Regions from separate parts of the Homo sapiens genome. Here region 2 is linked to region 1. The links come from fine-mapping of genetic effects on plasma protein levels. Region 1 holds a variant in brackets. A gene starts in the other region. All regions are shown on their forward strands.

What was found. PIP is the posterior inclusion probability: the model's chance that the variant is causal. The UK Biobank Pharma Proteomics Project read protein levels with antibody pairs (Olink). The fine-mapping took linkage between variants from a reference panel, not from the people measured, so its PIPs are less certain.
Region 2: SLITRK2 starts here. The variant in region 1 is fine-mapped to the plasma level of the SLITRK2 protein (UK Biobank, PIP 0.92).

The regions. Positions count from the first base shown.
Region 1 is chr5:109,676,904-109,687,602 of GRCh38, forward strand. No RefSeq gene overlaps it. Among named protein-coding and RNA genes, the nearest start is that of MAN2A1, 7.7 kb to the right of the region's middle. The variant C/T (reference allele first, on the strand shown) is at 4,632.
Region 2 is chrX:145,808,082-145,818,333 of GRCh38, forward strand. SLITRK2 (SLIT and NTRK like family member 2) reads left to right here and starts at 9,748. Exons shown (of 5, transcript NM_032539.5): 1 at 9,748-9,945.

The DNA.
Region 1 (10,699 bases):
TCCTGACAAATAAGGTTAAAAACTCAACCTCTATCTTCACAGTCTTTACAGAGGAGCAAAAGGCAGAGAGGAGATTCCCCATAGTCGGAGAAAACTGGACTAAAGAAGAATCACTCTACGTAAGCGAATCTGTGGTCTTCTCTCTCACTCAGAGACCTCAGGGGAGCATGAGAAATGAGTCAGTCTCTCTGAGGACCCACCAAGCTGCCAGAGCTAAACAAGAGTCTTGTTTGAACTCTGAAGGGGAGAAGGGACAGAAGGCATGGATGAGAACACAGCTGCAGTTGACTTCCGTGAAACCATCTGGAGAGCATGGCCCAAGAAAGAGAAAAGGGCACGGGGACCAAATTAAGAATGTTCTTAGTTAATTTTCTAAAGAATGAGTCCACTGAAAAACCACCCACTCCTGGGTTCCTGATAATGCAAACTTCATTCATTTGTTTATTCATTCAACAAATGGAGTAGCTCCGACCAATATTATGGATTGGCTTGGAAAATACCTCTGGCTTCTTGGCAGAGAATCAAGCAAGAAACTTACATGTGATTTTGGTCTATTCTAAATAACTTCTCTAGGTTACATACTTACACGCTGATGGTTCACACATAAGGAGGACAAAAGGAATGCTACCAAAACAAAAATCACCCCTCAAAATTATTTAAAAGGCAGAAGATTTTAAATTGAAGAAATATCTTTAGCATCAAGTCAGGGTATGAATGTACCAGAAAGGCTTTGTTTTAGCAAATTTACTTCCCAAAGGGCAGAATAATATATATGAAATGAAAAATGCACAGGCCTTTTGTTCTTTAATGACCTTGGGGGAATATTCTAATTTATCAGGAATCTGCCAAGAAAACAGTTTACCTCTTCAGTTGTCTCATTTTGTGTTTCTGAATTTTTTTTTTTTTTTTTTTTTTAGCCAGGGTCTCAATCTGTTGTCCAGGATGGAGTGCAGTGGTGCAATCATGGCTCACTGTAGCCTCGACCTCCTGGGATCAAGTGATCCTCCCACTATCAGCCTCCTGAGTTGCTGGGACTACAGCTATGTGCCACCATACCCAGCAAATTTTTGTATTTTTTGTAGAGACGAGGTCTCACCATGTTGCCCAGGCTGGTCTTGAACTCCTGAGCTCAAGTAATTTGCCCATTTCAGCCTCTCAAAGTCTGGGATTATAGGTGTGAGCCACTGTGCCCTGCCCATGTTTCTGAATTTTTAATACATTTTATTAATTCTTGCTGATCTGTGAAACACTAAGAAAAGTAAATTGTTTTATAATTTTGTCTCTTAATATCCTCCAAAAAATTAATTCTATTGCTTTTTCTTTGCATACTTCTTGGATACTATTTTCCTCCCTTTGTGTCAGTGACTTATCACAGGAAGAAAAAAAAAATGTTCCCCATCCATTCCTTACTTGGTATCTATAGGGCTGTAAGCGAAGACATTGGCTTTATCTACAAACTGCTGCAGTCAGATTGTTATGGAAATAGGAATTAATTATTGTAGAAGCAGTATAATGATCTTCTTTGGAATCAGAGAATTAAAACCAGGATTCAAAGCAATACCCGTAAGGGAAAGTGGTTGGGGTTTATATCGGAATCATGGGGGTATATTATATTAAGGTTAAAGAGGGAGGATGAGATGGAAAGACAGAAAATCTCGCCACAGCATGTGGAAGTTTCTCCTTAGGAGAGCCTTGTGGCTCATTGTGCCTGTCAAGTAGGCTAATGTGCCTGTAAATTTCCTCTGACAGAAAACACATCACAGCAGCAGCACCAGAAAACAACACAACCAAACTGTGGAAGACTGAAAACCCAGTGCTTTCAAGGGTGATCAGAATATGCCAGAGTAAAAAACAAAAACAAAAACCAAAAAAAAAGCAAGGCATTGAAAATAAACAAAAGCTAGGGAGAAATGAGATCACCTTCCAAGAAATAAGCATTTATCATTCATTCATAGGCGAAAGGAAATGCTTCTCCCACAGTCATTTTTTAATGTATTATTGGGCAGTCTCAGTTCAAGGTCAAAAATGTCAGAGGGCAAAAGGAATAGGACTCAAGATTTAATGCTGTATTTATCATAACTGGCTTTGTAATTGCATAAATATTAAATATGTAGAACTAATTGCAAGCACATTATCTCCATATCTCCACACATTGCTTTAATTTTTAATGTAATCTTTTATCTGCCTTTTCCTCAGCTGGCTGTGGGTTTGTAATTTGCATAGCTAGAATGATCCGGTGCCATCAATTTAGTAATGAAGTCACTCATTGAGCAGAAGAGTTTTCTAAAGATTATACAAAGCTGTAGGAAAGAAAAGAACAGAAATGAAATTTTATGTTTCAAATAAATGGGAAGTTTATTTTAGAACATATTTTCCATTGTAAATTTAATGCAACCACTTCATAACAAATTTGGAAAACAGAGAAGATTGGGAAAAAGCACCCATATTTCATCATCCTAACTTATCAGTGTTTTGTGGTCTTTTATACCTAGGCACATATATTTTTAACATCGATGTAATCATAATTATGTGTGTGTATATGTGTGTAATTTTACATCCTATTTTTTGTATTATTACTATGGTTTTCATAACTATAACTTTTATGACTATAAAATACTAATAAAAAGAGGTGTCTATAATTTTCTCACTTACTAAATTTCTTGTGGCTAGCCGAGCAGAGGGGTGGAATCAGATGGATTAAATTTCAGCTCTGCTATTGAACTGTGTGGATTTGGGCAAGTTAGTAAAAAGCTGGGCGTTAGTCTTCTCATCTACAAAATGAGGATAGTGATAGTGCTTTTATTAGAGTGTTCTTGTTAGAGTTAAAGGAAGTAATCCAGCATTTAGCCTGGCTCTGTCATATAATAGGTACTAAAACTAAGTATTAGTAAAGGCAAAAATGTCAAATACATTACATTGGGTTTCAAAACTTAGGAAAAAAAACTTAAGTCCTACAAAACTGAATTTCCTGGGATATTTCCATCACCCCCTTTAGAATTTTTTTAAAAATTTCTATTTAAAGATGGGGTCTTGCTCTGTTTCTCAAGCTGGACTCAAATTTTTGGGCTCCAGTGATTCTCCTGCCTCAGCCTCCCATGCAGCTGGGACTATAGGCATGCATCAGTGAGCCCTGCTTGCCCTCACCCTTGAAGTTCCCATGTGCCCTTTCCCAGTCACAACTCCTTTCTTCCACCGCGAACTAGACATTGATGCTTAGTGCTTTGTTGCTTTCCTTTATGCTTTACATGTAAGTATGCTTCTCTAAAGATACAGCTTATTCCCTGTTATTGAACTTGATATAAGTGGAGTCACACACACACACATGCACACACACACACATCATTCTGTATTTAGATAGCATGCAATCTAAGGCTTGGTTTTGTGATGAAAAAGCTTTAGACGTGGAACCAGAGAACTGGGCTTCTAGTCTAGTCTCCTTGAGACCTCGGGCAAATCTTTTTACCTTTCTCCATGTAAAATGTTTGGATGTTCTAAGTGTCTTTGAAGCTTTAGAGTACAGAGTTGTTAAGCCTTTCCTATTTGAGTATTGTGTGGCATATGAAAATCAGAGTCAAAGAGAATCCATAGAAAGGCCTAGTCTGGCTGGAAATAGACCTCCTCTTCCCCCAAATTAGGCCAATTGTAGTGACAGCAAACAAAGGCTTGTAGAAAAATGAAAGTGATGATCCTACATCACAAATAATTTTCTCATCTCTGATAAGTGCACATTTAGACATATTATTAGCCCTAATTATACTGTACATAGAGGATATTTTCCCCAGGATAAATCATAGCCATAAAGATTGTAATTTCAAGAGTTCAGAGTTCAAATAAGTAATCATATATTAGATAATATAGGTTTTTCTGGAAAGAGACAGTTTTAAACATTTTATTCCATTCTCTCTGTAGATGTATTTGTATTTCTACAAATACTGCCTATGGTAAGTACTGCAGGCTGGCTCACTCACTGTCCATTCTCCTCTCTTCTTATGGTGGCTTTTGTACTTCAGAGGCTGGAAAATTAAAACATTTCCTAGACTTCTTTGCACGTAGAGCTATGATATGAATTAGGTCTACAATTCGATACACTCATGCAAAACTTAAGAGAAAAGAAGTTAAGGCATCCTCCTGACCACTTTTGGTGGCATTTCTCTTAGAATTAAGGTCATAGAAACATTTTTCTGCAGCAGTGTTCCATGGTCCATTATTCAGCCTCCTGGAAGACAATATGCAGCAGAGGCCGTTGACAGCAGTAGGTTTTTGACTCCATCTTCTGTCATAGGGTTATGTTCTTGAACTCAGTGTTCCAGTAGTCTTCAGAGGTACTAGCTTCACTGATAGGTCACTTGGTATTATACGGGGAATCACTTTTGGAAGCTTGGTCTACAGCCCATTTCTTCAATCCTGACATGGATTTTTGTAAGCATCCTCTATTAAATAACTTCTTGCTTAAAATACCTAGAATGATTACTAATTTTTACACTTAATCTGAGCAATACACTTCCTAAATGTTATTTTCAAAAATCTATTCGTTGTAATACGAGGTATAAAGTATCATAATTCTATAGAATGCTGCATCAAAAGAGGAGTTTTGAAACCAGAAAAACGAAGCTATACCATTTAGTAGCTAA[C/T]TATTCTAAAGCAAGTTATTTAACTTCTCTGTATCTAAGTTTCTTTATATGTAAAATAGATGTTAATATAATAGTCTTGCAGAGTTATGATAATTAAATGAGGCAACATAAATAAAGCACTGAGCATAGATGCATTATATGGTGTTCATTTCTTTCTATCCCTATATTGGACTTCCTTTCGTGATCGAGATGATTAGTAAAATAATTTGGGGGAGAAATTATCTTTAAAGCGTTTTTTATTAAAGAAACGCTCACTTTATAGGAATATAAAGATTTAGTGCTGACTCACAAAGACAAAAGGAATAGCTTTAAATGCAGCTCAAAAGCAAACAGACATCTATTACGAGCCAGGGCAACTCATAATGGGCACCACCAATCCACATCAACTGGTAGCTCAGGACCAAGATTAGTATTCACTCATTCAACAAATATTTATTAGGCCTCAATATTGCTAGACACTATTTTACTCACTAAGATACAATGTTGAATCACAAGGTCTCTGACTTGTAGCAGCTTGCATTCTATTGGGAGGATAGACATAAAATAAGTCAATACATAATTTCAAATAGTGAGAAGGGTTATAAAGAATAAAGTCCTTCTCCAGCTCTCCTTCCCTTACCTTCTTATGTCTCTCTCAGCAGTGTATTATGCTACTTGACTCATCCTCTCTTGCAGCTTCCTTTCATGGGAAGAAAGGCACAGGGAGGTAAAGGCTATGCCAACAATATGAAGAGTCTCTGAGGTAGGTGGGTAATTTCAAGATCTGTAAAAGGTCGAGGGGTCACTACTGTTTCGTGGATGTCAGTGGAAAACACAAGACACCCTGATTAGAGACAAAGGAAGATGTTAAAGAGACAGGAAGATGTTGAGCCTGATGTCGGTGCTAGTTTCTCATGTCCCCCAGATCCCACAGGGTCTGAGGGAAAGGGTCCAGGTGGATGCAACATACACAGTGGATTTGTCACAGCAAAGGAATATTGAGCTTGAGGAATTTACTGCTTTACAGTGTGTGGTAAGTCAGTCTGCTCATTGTTTGGGAGAAGACATTACTCTGTTGCTCAAGGCTGCTCCCTGCAAACACAACCCTGAGAGGACACAAGTAAATAATGGTCAGGGCCTTGCATTCTTAGCATACCCAGAAAGAATGTGTAAGGATGCTCAGGGCTTTGACAGACTGATTCTCACAATAGGTTGAGTGGAGAAAAGGATTAAACCCGCATTCATTTATAGTTTTATGCAACCACAATTATAAAATTTTCTCAAGTTTTTAGGCTTTAGAACTTTGTCCTACTCCTTTCCAATTTGTCCCCCTTAGATATGATCTATTTAGGCCTTTGAGGAGCTCAGACAGACTTAGAGTATCAGTTGACAGAAAAGATAGATTTTCCTATTGTTAGCAAATATAAGCTGAGGCTCTTGTGCACATACAGACTTATCACCAGAAGCATGGGGCTAGACCTCATGCCTTCCAGAAACCTCACCCCAAGCACTCCTTCGAGACCTTTCCTATTCAAAATTACATTGAGTGCTCACTTTAACTTAATCTTCACTGCAAAAATGTATATCAGTGGGTAGGAAAAATGACAGATATCTATGATATGCTCCCAACCTGGAGCATTCCTTGGGTGGCCGTTGTTCTTGCATCCTGGTAGAAGGGGTTCTTCCTGGATTATGCTCACAGTACACTTTCATTGAGCTCTCAAGCCATAGATCGATGACAAGGGAGAAAATGGTGAACTTGCTCCATGAGAAATCAATGCTCTCCAATTATCCACATGGACTTCCTTCTCCATGTCCCATAGCAGCTGTTTCCAATGTTCTCTCCCCTACTCACCTCTCAATTGCACCCATCTTTCCCTTTCCCAGAGTAAATGGAAGTATCTGGTGAATGCTCTCCCAATATGTCACTACCTGTGGCAATCATACAGCAAGGCTGAAAGATCACTGTTACTACCCCAATATAATATGTTGGAAAATGGAGGCTTAGAGATATTATGTAACTTTCCCAAAGTCACAAAAGCTTTATGTACTGGAGAAGCAATCAAATTTGAACCTTTATGATATGGGTTCTGCCCTCATGTACCTTCCCTTCCCTCTATTTTCAGTGTTCCTACAAAAAGCTCTAGCCTCCTGAGCCCCAGAAACATGTACACTATAGAGAATGTTTGCTTTCACTTTTGCTAGAAAATTTTCTCATAGCATAAGGATTAAATCTGTAGCAATTTGTTTCCCTAATGACAGAGATAATTGCTCTGATCCAAAGGGAGGATAAAATTTCTCATATCTTTCCCAAATGAAAAGATTGTATCCCAGGATAGGCACCTAGGTTTGTTCTGAAGGTCCTGGGGAAACCAGAATGTCTGTCTGTCTGTCTATCTATCTATCTATCTATCTATCTATCTATCTATCTATCTATCATCTATCTATCTTTCTATCTGTCATCTATGTCATCTCATCTATTTATCCATCCTATGTATTTATCATCTAATTTATCTGTATATCTCTATCATCAATTTATCAATTATCTATCAATCTATTTTCCAGCTTTATTGAGGTATTATTGGTAAATAAAAATTGTATATATTTATGGTGTACAACATGAAGTTCTGATACATGTATCCATTATAAAGTGATTACCACAAGTAAGCTTATTAACGTATCCATCACCTCACATAATTACCATTATTTTGTGGATGATGAGAACGCTTAAGATCTATCCTCTTAGCAAATTTTCAGTACACAATACAGTATCATTAACCATAGTCACCATGCTGTTTGTTAGCTCTCCAGAATTTATTCATCTAATAATTGAAGGTTTATACCCTTAGACCAAAATCCCCCCATTTCCTCCACTTCCCAGCCTCTGGCAACCACCATACAACTTTCTATTTCTATGAATTTGACTTCTTTAGATTCCACATACCAGTATAAGTGAGATCATGAGGTATTTGTCTTCCTGAGTCTGGCTTATGTCACTTAACATAATGTTCCTCAGGTTCATCTAAGTTGTTGTACATGATAGGATTTCCTTCCTTTTTAAAAGCTGAATAGTATTCCATTGTTTATATATACCACATTTTCTTTATTCATTTGTCTGTTGATGGACACTTAGGTTTATTCCATATCTTGGCTATTGTGAATAATTCTGCAATGAAAATGGGAGTGCAGCTATCTAATGAGATAACACCTCACATCTCTTGGAATGGCTATTGTCAGCTTTTGGAGACCTAAAGACTCATATGTTAGTAACAATAGGAAAACATACAGCTTTTTCATAAGTGATAGTAAAATCTTATTTCAGTAAAGTAAATAAGTGATCAAGATCATCCAAATTAATTTTCTGAAAAAGAGAAGTTGCTTTGGATATATACACAGGAGTGGGATTGCTGGATAATGTGGTAGTTCTATTTTTAAGTTTTTAAGAACTTCATACTGTTTTCCACAATGGCCTACCAGTCTATAATCCTATAAATAGTGCACAAGGGTTCCTTTTCTCCATTTCTTGGTCAACTCTTATTATTATTTGACATGTTTCTAGTAGCCATCCTAACAGGTATGAGGTAATATCTCATTGTGGCTTTCATTTACATTTGCCTGATGATTAGAAAACCTTTTTTTTTTTTTTTATATGGAGTCTTGCTCTGTCACCCAAGCTGGAGTGCAGTGGTGCAACCTCTGCTCACTGCAACTTCTGCTTCCTGGTTTCAAGCGATTCTCCTGCCTCAGCCTCCACAGTAGGTGGGATTATAGGCACCTCCCACTACACATGGCTAATTTTTGTATTTTTAATAGAGAACGGATTTCACCAGTGATCTGCCCGCCTCAGCCTCTCAAAGTGCTGGAAGTACAGGCAGAAGCCACAGTGCCCGACCTAGAGCACCTTTTAATATTAGCTGTGGGCCATTTGTATGTCTTCTTTGAAAAAATGTTTATCCAGGTGACTTGTTCATTTTAAGATTGGGCTATTTATTTATTTACTATTGAATTATGTGGGTTCATTATATATTTTGGATATTAGTCCCTTAACAAATATGTGGTTTGCAAATATTAGGTTGGTGCAAAAGTAATTGCGGTTTTTTTGCCATTACCTTTAAAAAATCACAGTTGCCATTACCTGCAAAAACCGCAAATACTTTTGCACCTACCTAGTATTTTCTATCAGCTGGGTGGTTGCCTTCTGTATTTGTTTGCTAGGGATGGCATAACAAAATACTAAGGACTGGCTAACTTAGACAACAGAAATTTATTTTCTCAGTCTGGAGGCTAGAAGTCCAAGATCAAAGTGTCAGCGGGTTTGGTTTCTCCTGAGGCCTCTCTCCTTGGCTTGCAGATGGCTGCCATCCCAATCTGTCCTCACATGGTCTTTTCTCTGTGTGCATGTATCCCTGGTCTCTCTCTCTTCTTATAAGGACACCAGTCAGATTGGATTAGGGCCTTACTAACAGCTTCATTTTAACTTAATCGTCTTTTTAACTTAATCTCCTCTTTAAAGACCTTATCTCTAAATACTATTACACTCTGAGGTACTGGGGGTTGGGACTTCAACACGTGTATTTTAAAGAGAAACATTCAGCCTATACCACTTTCCTTCCATGGCCACGTGATTGGTATGACCAGTCCCTGCAACAATCACTTTGCCCCTTTTCCCCCAAATCCTAACCATTGCTAACCCACACCATCTGTTTGGATTCATCTCTCAGTGACTCAGTGGTTTTGTCCTCATATAGCTTTACCATCCTAGAACATATCCCACATCCGAAGTGACCACTTTAGAGTTGTCATCTCATACTCAAGATCATTATCTCCTTCTCTCTGGTTCAAATATATATTATTACAGCACCTAAAATACTTACTAATTCCTGCTCATCAGGTCCAATCAGCATAATGTTGTCAATGTAGTGGACCAGTGTGATATTTGATGGTATGTCAAGACAATCAATATCTCTGTGGACTATATTAAGGTGAATTGACATACCCCCAAGACAATACTGTGAAGGTATCCTGTTGGCCCTAACATGAGAAAGCCAACTGCTTCTGGTGGTTTTACAAACAGATATAGAGAAAACAGCATTAGCCACATCAGTAGCTATATACCAAGTGCCAAGTGCTATGTTGATTTGTTTCAGTAAAAATAATACATTTGAGACAGCAGCAGCAATTGGAATCACTTCCTGATTAAGTTTATGAGTCCACAGTTATTCTACTAGATGTATCCTGTACTGGTGAATTAAATGAGAGTAAGTATCACCACTCCTACTCCTTTTAAGACTTTTATGATAGCACTGATTCCTGCAATTCCTGCCAGCCATGCAGTGTTGTGTTTAGTGAGCTAAGTGGAAGCTCTAAGAGCTCCTGGAGCTTCCATTTAGCTCTCCCTAATAATAGCCCTCATTCTATGGCTAAATCCCAATGTGGGGATCCTGTCAGTTGCTAAGTATGTCTGTTACAATTATTAGATTGGTGCAAAAGTAATTGCTGTTTTTGCCATTAAAATTATGCTGTTAATACATATTCCAATTACACTGGGAAAGTAGCCACATAGTTGGTATGTGGACTAACAGTGGTGATTTCTGTCCCCAGGAATTAGCATCAACTCAGAGCCAGTGTTTAGTAAACCTCAAATGATCTGTGTATTTCCTTTTCGCCAATGCAGTTTCACTAGTAAATGGCCACATGTCGTTTTGGGGAAAGCTTGAAAGAATTTGCCATGTGTACTGTAGCCAAGGTGCAAGATCCTTCTTAAAGGGAACACAGATTCTCTTTCAACCAAGGGACTATGGGTCTGTGAATTGACTTAGGTCTGAGAACTGAGAGACTGTGACTATCCACTGTGGTGACTCAAGTCAGGTTTTGGCTACCTGACTTAGATCTTTTTACCTGTTATAAATATCAAGCAATAATCTATTTCAACTGCCTATCTATTTTGTTCTCAGAGCAGCTCCGTAAGCCAAGGCAGTCTGATTTCCTGCTGCCCTTTAAGGTACATGTGCGCCCACCTTGTCTTTGTTGGTTATGTGCTGCCTGGTTTCTGCTATTCTGAGATCGTGTCATCCCCATTGAAATCAGGG
Region 2 (10,252 bases), not on the chromosome of region 1:
AAAGAATACATACAATGTATGACTAAGCAGAATTGAACTTGAGGGGGAATCAAACCTAACATTTCTTCTCAATTTGAAGTGAATTTCACTTTTGACAAACTGTGAGGCAGTTATGCTACTCACCCAGATAGGAGATACTAATGGCCATTTTTCTCCTAATTAATTAATAAGGAATTAAAGTATACAGCAATACCCCATAAGGAGTTCATTAAGTGACAGACATTTTGTATACTGAATAGATCAAATTACTACAGAAAGCATGAGGGTACAGTTAAAAACGTCTGTGATAATAGCTATAATTTATTGACTGCCTACTGGTGGGCAATTGGTGGTGATCATGTTAACGCTTTTCAACACACTGTGGTTTCATAACTAATTAAGAAGTAAATGCAAGTATCAGACAGATGGAGCTCAAAATACCAGGTTCATTACTGTTAACAATAAATTCAATAACTTGGTTTGGTCTATGGCCATAATTGGACTTCCCGGCAAAGACTTCTGAATTAAATTTAGCCATCCAGTCCCAGGCAGTGCTGGGCATAATCTGAGAGTAGGTGGCCCTGGAAAGAAAAAAGGACACAAACATCACTGAGCTAATCTTGTTCAGATTCTTCTCTCAAACTCACCAGGGAGATCACTTCTTTCTTGGAGTCAGGAGGAGGAGAAGGAGAAGGGAGGCAGGGAGGAGGAGGAGGAGGAGGAGGAGGAGGAGGAGGAGGAGGAGGAGGAGGAGGAGGAGGAGGAGGAGGAGGAGGAGGAGGAGGCAGAAGAAGAGAAAGTGAGAGAAAGAGAGAGAGAGACCCACTCTTCCTATTATTTCCAGAAGGACGGTATTCCCTACTCTATGGATCAAGCTAAGAACACTTGGAGGATAATATGCTTTCCTTTTCACCTACTAAATGCTAGGCACTGTATGAAACATTTTATATCTTTTTTCTGTGTTTCTCACAACAATACTCACTAGGTCAGTATAATTATCCAGACTTTACAAAAGAGGAAAGTGAGACTCAGGGAATTTAAAACATGCCCACACTCCTACTCACATTCTTGGTTAGATAGTTGAGCTGGAATTCAAATCCAGATCTGTTTGACTCCAAAGCCCACATACTTTCTACTATCTGCACTTTATGCAAATGAAATCACCAAATTCCCCTTTTAAATAATTAAAGTAATGTAGATGGGGCATAAAAATGTCACTAGTCCTTTCAACTTTCTTGGATAATTGGGGCTTGTCAATCACATCTATTTGGTTCAGCATTAGATTATGTCAAATGAAATGTCTTTTCACAAAAACCTATTGTTTAATTTTAAGTTAATTCACCTTTGTAAATCTGAGAGGCTTAGTCCCATTCTGCCTTGGGTGTGTACACACAGTACCTATTAGCAATTAAAATGAGTTATAAATGCGTCAAGAAGAGATCCTGCAGCTGAAATCCAGGTCAGCTTACATGAAATGGATATATATCTTCCTCTTCTGAATGTTCATTAGATGTTCTATTTTATCTTCAAAAGTTAGTAGCAGAAATTTTCTTGAAGTTGACACTTATAGGTCAAGTGAGCTTCATGATAATGTTCTCAGCCCCCATGCATCAGAGGCCTACTCTGAAGGACTTATATAACTCTACTCAAAATTTTGAAACGAAGAAGATGCGAAATGAAAGAGAAAAAAAAACTATTTATGGACCCGGGTCTCCCTGCAATATCCTCAAAATTATTCAGTAGATCTAGTAAATGATAGCATGAAAAGTAAGCTACTTCAGATTTCCTTAAGTTTGATATTTTAGCATGTATGTGAAAATAATGAAGTAAATCTTTCTAAACTCAATACTGAGATTTGTGTTCATTTTTTTAAATTCAATAACTATTTACCAAGCATTTTATTCCATTTTATATAGTTCATCCCAAAGCACAACATAAGCAATAAAATTTTAGTTAAAAGAATTTGAAAATAAAATGGTACTGCTTAATGTGGCTGACCAAGCATGCACTTTTTGCAGGCCTATTATAACATGGTTCATAAGCAGAGTGTATTGTGCAATGGTAAATTTTAACGCTGAACATCAATGAAAAAATATAATTCTAAAATTAAAGCATCAAAACATTAAACAACCAAGCAGAGGCATTTACATGAGAGTTGGGAGATGTGAATTTTTCTTTTGACTCTGCCTGTATGACTGAATAAAATCACTTCACCTCTCTGAGCCTCATTTTCCCCATCTATAAAATGAAGATGTTGGACTAGAATGGATCTTGCCATTTACATCAGATTCCCTTGAGAGTCCTATAAAAGTACCATTCCCAGACTTCACCTTCAGAAAGTTCTATTCGGTAAGATTTTAGAGGAGCTCAGAAATCTTCCTGTTTAACAAGGGCCCAGGGGATGTGGATGTTGGAGATGAACACAAACTACAAAATAAGGTACGCTGAAGCTAGATCCCCTTCCCATCCTACCATTCTAATAGCCTATGGAAATTTGAGTAAAAATAACAATTATGGCTGGGCACGGTGGCTCACACCTGTAATCCCAGCACTTTGGGAGGCCAAGGCAGGTCATGAGGTCAAGAGATTGAGACCATCCTGGCCAACATGGTGAAACCCCGTCTCTCCTAAAAATACAAAAATTAGCTGGGCATGGTGGCGTGCGTGCCTGTAGTCCCAACTACTCGGGAGGCTGAGGCAGGAGATTTGCTTGAACCCGGGAGGCAGAGGTTGCAGTGAGCTGAGATTGCACCACTGCACTCCAGCCTGGCATCAGAGCGAGACTGTCGAACAAAAAAAAAAACATGATGATATCTTTATCGTAGAAACTTATATGTAGTGATAACCCATTTCAAGTAATCATTTTATCATAATATAAACTGCTCCCTGTAGTGTTTATACTTTTTGTTGATAAAACATCTAACTGTGAATGAAGGAATTCCCAAATCAATTATAAAAGAAAGAAAAGAAGGAAGGAAGGGAGGAAACAGGGAAAGGAAGGTATTGATAGATAGGCACATACATAAAACACAAACTCTTAGGCTATCAAGTGCTTTTATACCCAAAATAATCATCAGCATTTTGCAAGTAGAAAATTCTTAAACATTACATTACTTTGGTATTTCAATGAAAGATAAGAATTGAACACGCATGAAAGAAGCTTTGTAAGCCTGCAGTTTAATTGTAGATCACTTGCCCTGTTCCCCTATTATTTTGAGACTTTTTACATAGAATTATCAGTTACAGTAATTTATTAAGGTGGGTTTTTAAAATTATTTAAGGTACTGATATGGTTTGGCTGTGTCCCCATCCAAATCTCATCTTGAATTGTAGTTCCCATAATTCCCACGTTTTGTGGGAGGGACCTGGTGAGAGATAATAGAATCATGGGGTGGTTTCCCCCATACTGTTCTCGTGGTAGTAAGTCTCATGATGAGATCTGTTAATTTTATAAGGGGTTTCCCCTTTCACTTGGTTCTCATTCTCTCTTGTCTGCCGCCATGTAAGACATGGCTTTCACCTTCTGCCATAATTGTGAGGCCTCCCAGCCATGTGGAACTGTGAGTCCATTAAACCTCTCTTTTTTTTTTTTTTTTAAATAAATTTCCCAGTCTTGGGTATGTTTTTATTAGCAGTGTGAGAACAGACTAATACAGGTGCTTTGCATATTAACACTGAAAATTGATCAAGAAGTTGGATGTTTAATTTAATATAGGTATTATGGTCCATCTGTGTCCTTGAACTCTACTTTAGCCAAACCACATACTTAAAAACCATAGAGAAACACAACTTGATGAAGCCAGGTAAGCTGTGATCTACATCACCACTGCAGCTCAAGAATGAATTTGGCTAATGGCCATAGCAAAGATAACAAATCAACAATTTCATTGGAATTCAATACACCCCAATGTTGCAATATAAATCAAAGCAGATCCATTCAGAACCTTCAGTAAATCATATGACATTTGAATTCCAAGCAACTGGAACTTTACAGCAGGGATCCAGGTTTAGTCAAAATTGTTATACAATGTTTATTTATATTCAAGTATAGGAGTTACCTGAAATTGAGTGATTATATTTTTTAAAATTGTAACCAGAACATCAGTTCATTAATTTGACAGTTGTCTTTCCATGCTGCAAATAATAACCAGCGTTCATCATTTAGCAGTCATGTACAGCGCTCCCTACATATTAGTATTTTTATTGAAAAATACATTAAACAGTTCAATATATTCAAATTAAGGCAAATAAATTTTCCAGTTCTAATTGTGCCATTCTCTAACCTCGGTCAACTAGACCTATATATGAAAAGCTAAAGGATCAGCATACTGAATTTATTATTCTGAAGCAACGATGTGTAGCAAAAAAAAATAAGCTTGCTTTTGCCTCCTTTCAAAATATTAATAAAGTGACACTGACCCCACTCCTGTACTTGTGTTGCTGTGGTGATGCCCACGGTGGAAGAAAAATTTGGTGATAATTATGCTTTCAATATTGGCATGGTTTCCTGAGATTCCCGCAAAGTGATGCTTTCAAGATGCTGCATATAATTCTTCCACCTCAGAGACACTTCAGGCTATTCTTCTAAGAGAACTTCAGGTGTATTTAGGTAATCTAAAACTCATAAAACTTGAGGCTCATTTTCTTTTCAATTTGCTTAGGAATATAGTGAGACCAAAGGCAGATGCAAAAGTTACTTAATATATGTCCTGGGGCCGTTACATCTGACTAAGAGGTTACCTGACCTACCATAATCAGGTGAAGAGGGTTGTATTCCAAATGTCATTGTACTGTCACTTAAGAAACTGCCTGGGAGATGAAAAATAGAAGGGGACAAAAATAATTGATATCACATCTGAGTAATAAGTCATCAGGATTCAAGGTAAAAAACATCCATTCTCCTCACATTGATTTGCAATGATGGTTGAATGCGGCATCCAGTTATTACTGGAAATGATTTTATTTACATTCTAGATCTTACTTGCCTCATTTCTAAACCTACAATTTTGAAACTCTGCTTCATTTTGTGCAAATCACAACTTCAGGTAGATCTGGGGTATGTCATCCTTGCCATTTTGTTCATATTAATAGACTAGTCCTCTTCACAAATGATGACATTTTTAAAAATCAGAACTACTTAGTGCAAATCCTGAGTAGCTGCTCCTCTGACCGTAACTCTTTAGAACTGGGCATCTTCTATGCAGACATTTTTGAATTTTCCAGCAGAGTCAGCATTAAACTCTCTACCACAGCACATACTTTACCATATATTTATACTAGCCAAACATAAATACATAAATAAAATCAACAGAACTTATTACAGAGGCTCAACTGCATTATACCATTCCAATAAAGTGCAATGTCAAACCTAATAAATTTGGCTTCCTCCTGAACACATTAGGTTGTAACTCCAAACCAAAATATGACTTCCAGCTGCAGCAAAATTCATAAGATAGAATGTGTCAGGATAGATGAAATACCTACTAATGCTGTCCTGAGCCTTATCTGTTAAATTTGTGGCTTTTGCCATGTATATGTGCTCCCAAGTCTAGTAAGCTTAAATGTGGTTCTTACTGATAAATCACTGGACTCAGTCAAAAAAGAGGGAGAGCCAGAGCCCTTAGAGAACAGGTATCATTAATAAGTGGCACTTGGTGTAATTGATGGGGGCACCATAAGTCTTTCTATAACTTTGTAAGACATGCAGTTGTCTTTTCCTTCTATTTCTGTACTTCCCCTCTTGATCTACTGCCTCTTTTCTCCTTTCTATCCCATTTTCCTTCCTTTCCTGCCCATTCCAGCGTGGCAGTGTTATTCAAACTGTAAGAGGCAATCTACAGTCACTCCTGAGTTCAGTTTAGTGGGCCACAGCCAAGCATTTAAAAAATCGACTACAATAGAATAATATTTCATTATATATTGTTATATTACTTATTACATTTATATAATTACACGTATGTATATATAGTATACATATGCACATTACACACACACACAAAAGCCAGTGACGCTGCTAATCCTTCTACATTGCATAGGGCAGCCCCCACAACAAATAATCATTTGACCAAATATATCAACAGTGTTGAGTTTGAGCCCTGATGTATACATATATGTAACTATTTGAAAACATCTGTAAAATGAAAGATGGAATTTTTTTGAAGTTATTTTAAATGTTTGACATTACATGGCTCCAACTAGAATCATAAATATTTTTTCTAATGCTAATTCTGTTATCCAACTTAAATTAAGATGTTGGTTTCTGACTAAAATCAACCATTTCACCAAGAATGGGAGTAAGGGTAAGTTACTTAAATTTTCTGAGTCTCACTTTCCTCTTTTGTAAAGTCTGGCTAATCATACTGGCCTGTTGAGGATTGTCATGAGAAACATAGAAAACAGATATAAAATATTTTGTATAACTTATTTATTTTAAGAAGTGAGTTAAAAATTTTTTTAGTTTAAGATTTATTTGCACATACATGTACCACCGTTCAATTTTCAAGAGTTCTGTATACATCCCATCCTTACTGACTCCACATAGCAGGTGCCAGTTTTACACATGGGGAACTGAAATTGGTGTAATGCTGTTTTTGTCCCATTGTGAGAAAGTAGCACGGGTGGAATTTGAACCCAGGTCATTGGGCTCCAAGGGCTTGGATATGTATTTGATTAAAAGAAAAACTGCCCTGGGTCTTGGCCCAGCACTATTTCAATCAGGCCAAAATGCCTGCCAAATAATCCAAATAATTGAATTGAATTGAAAAATATCCACCTTTTCAATAACATCAGGAACAAAAGTCTACAATATCCTGTAAACTATAATTACTAATATTAAGGGCATGTCCGCTTTGTTGCGTTTCTTTATTTAGGAATTTGTTCTGTGGCACTCTTCTTTGAAACCTTTGGTTGGAAAGAAACTATGTTCACTGAAAATGCAGCACATTTTGTCTTCTTTTATATGTTTTAAAGCTTTCTAGTTCTGGATAGGTGTGAAGAAGTTGAAAAAGCAACATTCTCAGGTAAATTACGTACTACACAGTAATAGGACATCCTTTACATCATCCTGGAAACATATGCGCTTTTTATCTCACTCATCGCAGGTGAAATTTCTGGTTTTCTTCTAACCTTAGAATGAAATTATAAAAACCCAGGCAAGATTTAGTTTTATTTCTCTGTTTTTCCACTAGTTTTCCAATCGGGATCTCTATGTTGTTTAGTAACACGAACTTCACAATAGAAAGTAGCTTACAGTAAACCAAACCCCCACCACATGCAATTTACCTATATAACAAACTTGCACACGTACACCTGAACCTAAAATAAAAGTTTTTCAAAAAGAAAACAGCACATGGATATAAAGATACATTTACAGTGCTAGTATAAAGAAGAATAATGTGATTTTTATTAATGAACAGAAGTACATTAATATGGTGTCTCTAGTATTCAATTCTATTTGGAAATTTTCCTCTAACACAGAAGCTTTTAGAAAATTCAGCATAAAGCAGCTTTCAAATAAATTGGCATATTTAAATTTTTCACAGACTTCAAACTCTCCTCCATTATAACTGTCTATGCAAAACCCTCTCAGAAAGTTTTATATTGCTCATCAATTTTCGTGTCTGTGCATTCAAAGCACAGCTATCCACCTACTTGAAAATTTTATGCTGACAAAAAGAAAAGTCTGCTCTTTTTAATTTTGTCTTACTATCAGTGTGGTCCCATGTGGAAAGGCAGGCTGCTAAATGCTTTTCGAAGGCTGGTGAACAGGTTAGACTTGCTTACAAGGCTAATTAAAATTGATGCATGCCATCTATTACATGTTACTACTGGATCTAAATAAAGTATCACTTTTCATCATTAATGCCATGTTCCTTCTCTACTCTGTATAGAAGTTTTTGCTTATTTTGTATGTTCCCTTTGGCTACAGACACATCACCCTTCTTAGTAAACTGTCTGAGTTTTTCAGCATGACTGTCTCATTATTTCTGTATTGGAATGGCCTCTTAGCTCTGTGTTTTGCAGTTGTTTATAACATCTACTAAAAGCGACATGAAAAGATGACACAGTCAGAAATACGGTAAAGACAGAAGTAACAGTATTAACTGACCTCATTTAGTTAATAATATGATGTGCTCAGTGCACTGCTTTTAGTCTGTAGCAAACAGCACATTGGATGTTTACACTAATACAGATATTGTAAAAAGAAGAGCAATGCTTCTGGATATATAACCGTACATACACTGCCCACGTGCTTATGTGAGAACTATGTTATTCCGAAGTTGCTTATCTGAATGGTAGGAAGATTTCAAAAAGGCTTTCTCAAGAATGAAATAAAAGGAACAGTAATGACCCTTACAACTCCGAAGATACGATTATAATTCTTCCGACTATTATTAAAGCAAACTCTGTACATCTTCATAATATAAGATTGCCAGTAGTTTTCTTTTTAAAAAGCCCAGCATAATCTCCTTAGAAAACCATTATGAAAGAAAGCCAAGAAGAGAGGACAGGAGAAGCACAAAAGATTCCCACGGGAAGGACAAGAAAAAGGTGGTTGTCAGTGCTGTGAGAACGAGTTGAAAGGCATGGGAAATATGGAAACAGACAAATTCCAATGCAGATCCACTAGCTGGAGAGGTAATTTTGCGTCTAATTTTGCACCTCTCTCCTCGCCTCCCCGTCTGCTCTCCACCATCACGCTTTTCGACAGTAAGAAGGATTTGGGGTTTTGCAGACTCTAGCGGGCATGAAAAGGATAGGGGGTGGCAACGACTTGAATTAATGACGTTCTCCTACAGGATGGAGGGGAAAATGACTTAGTGTCATCAAATGAACTCCCTACTCCTGGCATAAATTTATCAAACTGCAACTTTATCTCGAATACTCTGGAAGAGTAGAGGAGAGGCCCTAGAGAAAGCAAGTCTTGAGGGGAAACGCAATGCTCTTGGCAAAAACCGCACCTCCCTCTTGAACTACACTGACTCTTTTCACAGAGCGCCTTCCTTTAATAGAATCACAACCACCTGGACTACTAATAAGAGGAAGAAGAAAGGAGAAAAGGGAAGGGAGGATGGCAAAAATCACGCTCTAGAAGATCCAGGCAACGTCGTCGTGAAGAATAAAGGGAATCAAAATGGGCACTGGAACGCTGCTAAGGGCTTGCTTTGTTAACACACTTGCACAACTCAAGTTCAGCTCTATCTTATGTTGAAAGTCCTTGTTTACGATCCTCGTAGGAGGTTCTTAAATATCTGCCTGCGAACTCCCAAAGACTGGGCGCTTACTAGTTAGGGGAGGCAGCTGTCCCGGAGGGTGTCCAGCTCGGATGGCTGACTGCTCTTTCACTTGTCGTTAACTTCCACCCAGTAGTCTTAGTCTCCCCTTGGACATGGTACCGACCGTGTGCCATTCTTATTTCACTTGACCGAGCCCGAGCTGCAGCCCAGGGTGGAAGCCGCAAGGGCTGGGCAGAGTTCCAGGCAAGAGGGACCGAGAGGCGTGAGCAGTGCTCCGCAGCGCTTGTCAGAGAAATGGAGCAGCGGCTCCTTTGTGGGCTCTTACATCCCCGTCCTGGGTGCACAGCCCGGATATTTGATCTGTGGGGTGATTGATAAGTGAGGGAGAGGGGGGACGCGATCCCTCCCTCCCTCCTCCCTCCCTCCTCCCTCCTCACTCCCTCCTCCCTCCTCCCTCCCTCCTCCCTCCTCCCTCCCTTCTTCCCCTCTCCTCCCTCCCGCTTTACTTCCCTCCTCCCTCTCGCCTCCCTCCCTCCTTCCTGCAAGAAGCGTTGCCCGTTGGCTAGCTGCTCGGTGGGGATCTGCCTGCCCTGGGGGCGCCGCCCGCGCTCCCCGCGGTGCTCTCGCTCCTGGGCTGCGCCAGTCCGAGGCGGTGCCGGCTCCTTTGCCTCCCCGAGTCGCAGATGCTGCGGGCGCCTCCGGGAAAAGATCTGGGCGGCGCGCTCGCTCGGTAAGTTCTGAGCACTCAGGGACGCGGTGGCGACGCGGCCAGTGAGCCGGCTTTCCTCAGTCCGTTGCCTTTCCCGGCCACCTCTCCTTGCGAGGGGCACCAGCGTGGGGAGGCTGGGCGCCATCCGCGGAGGGCAGCTCGCTGGCGGCCGCCCTCTACCCTCAATCCCCACTGGAGATTCCTCACCCCGGGACCGTCCGCGCGGGCGTGGTCGGGCTCCGCGCCTCGCGCAGCGGGGTGGCACAGGCGGCCAGGGAGGGCCCACGCACCCGGCGCGAGCTAGAAGCCTCCGGTCGGCCTGCAGTGC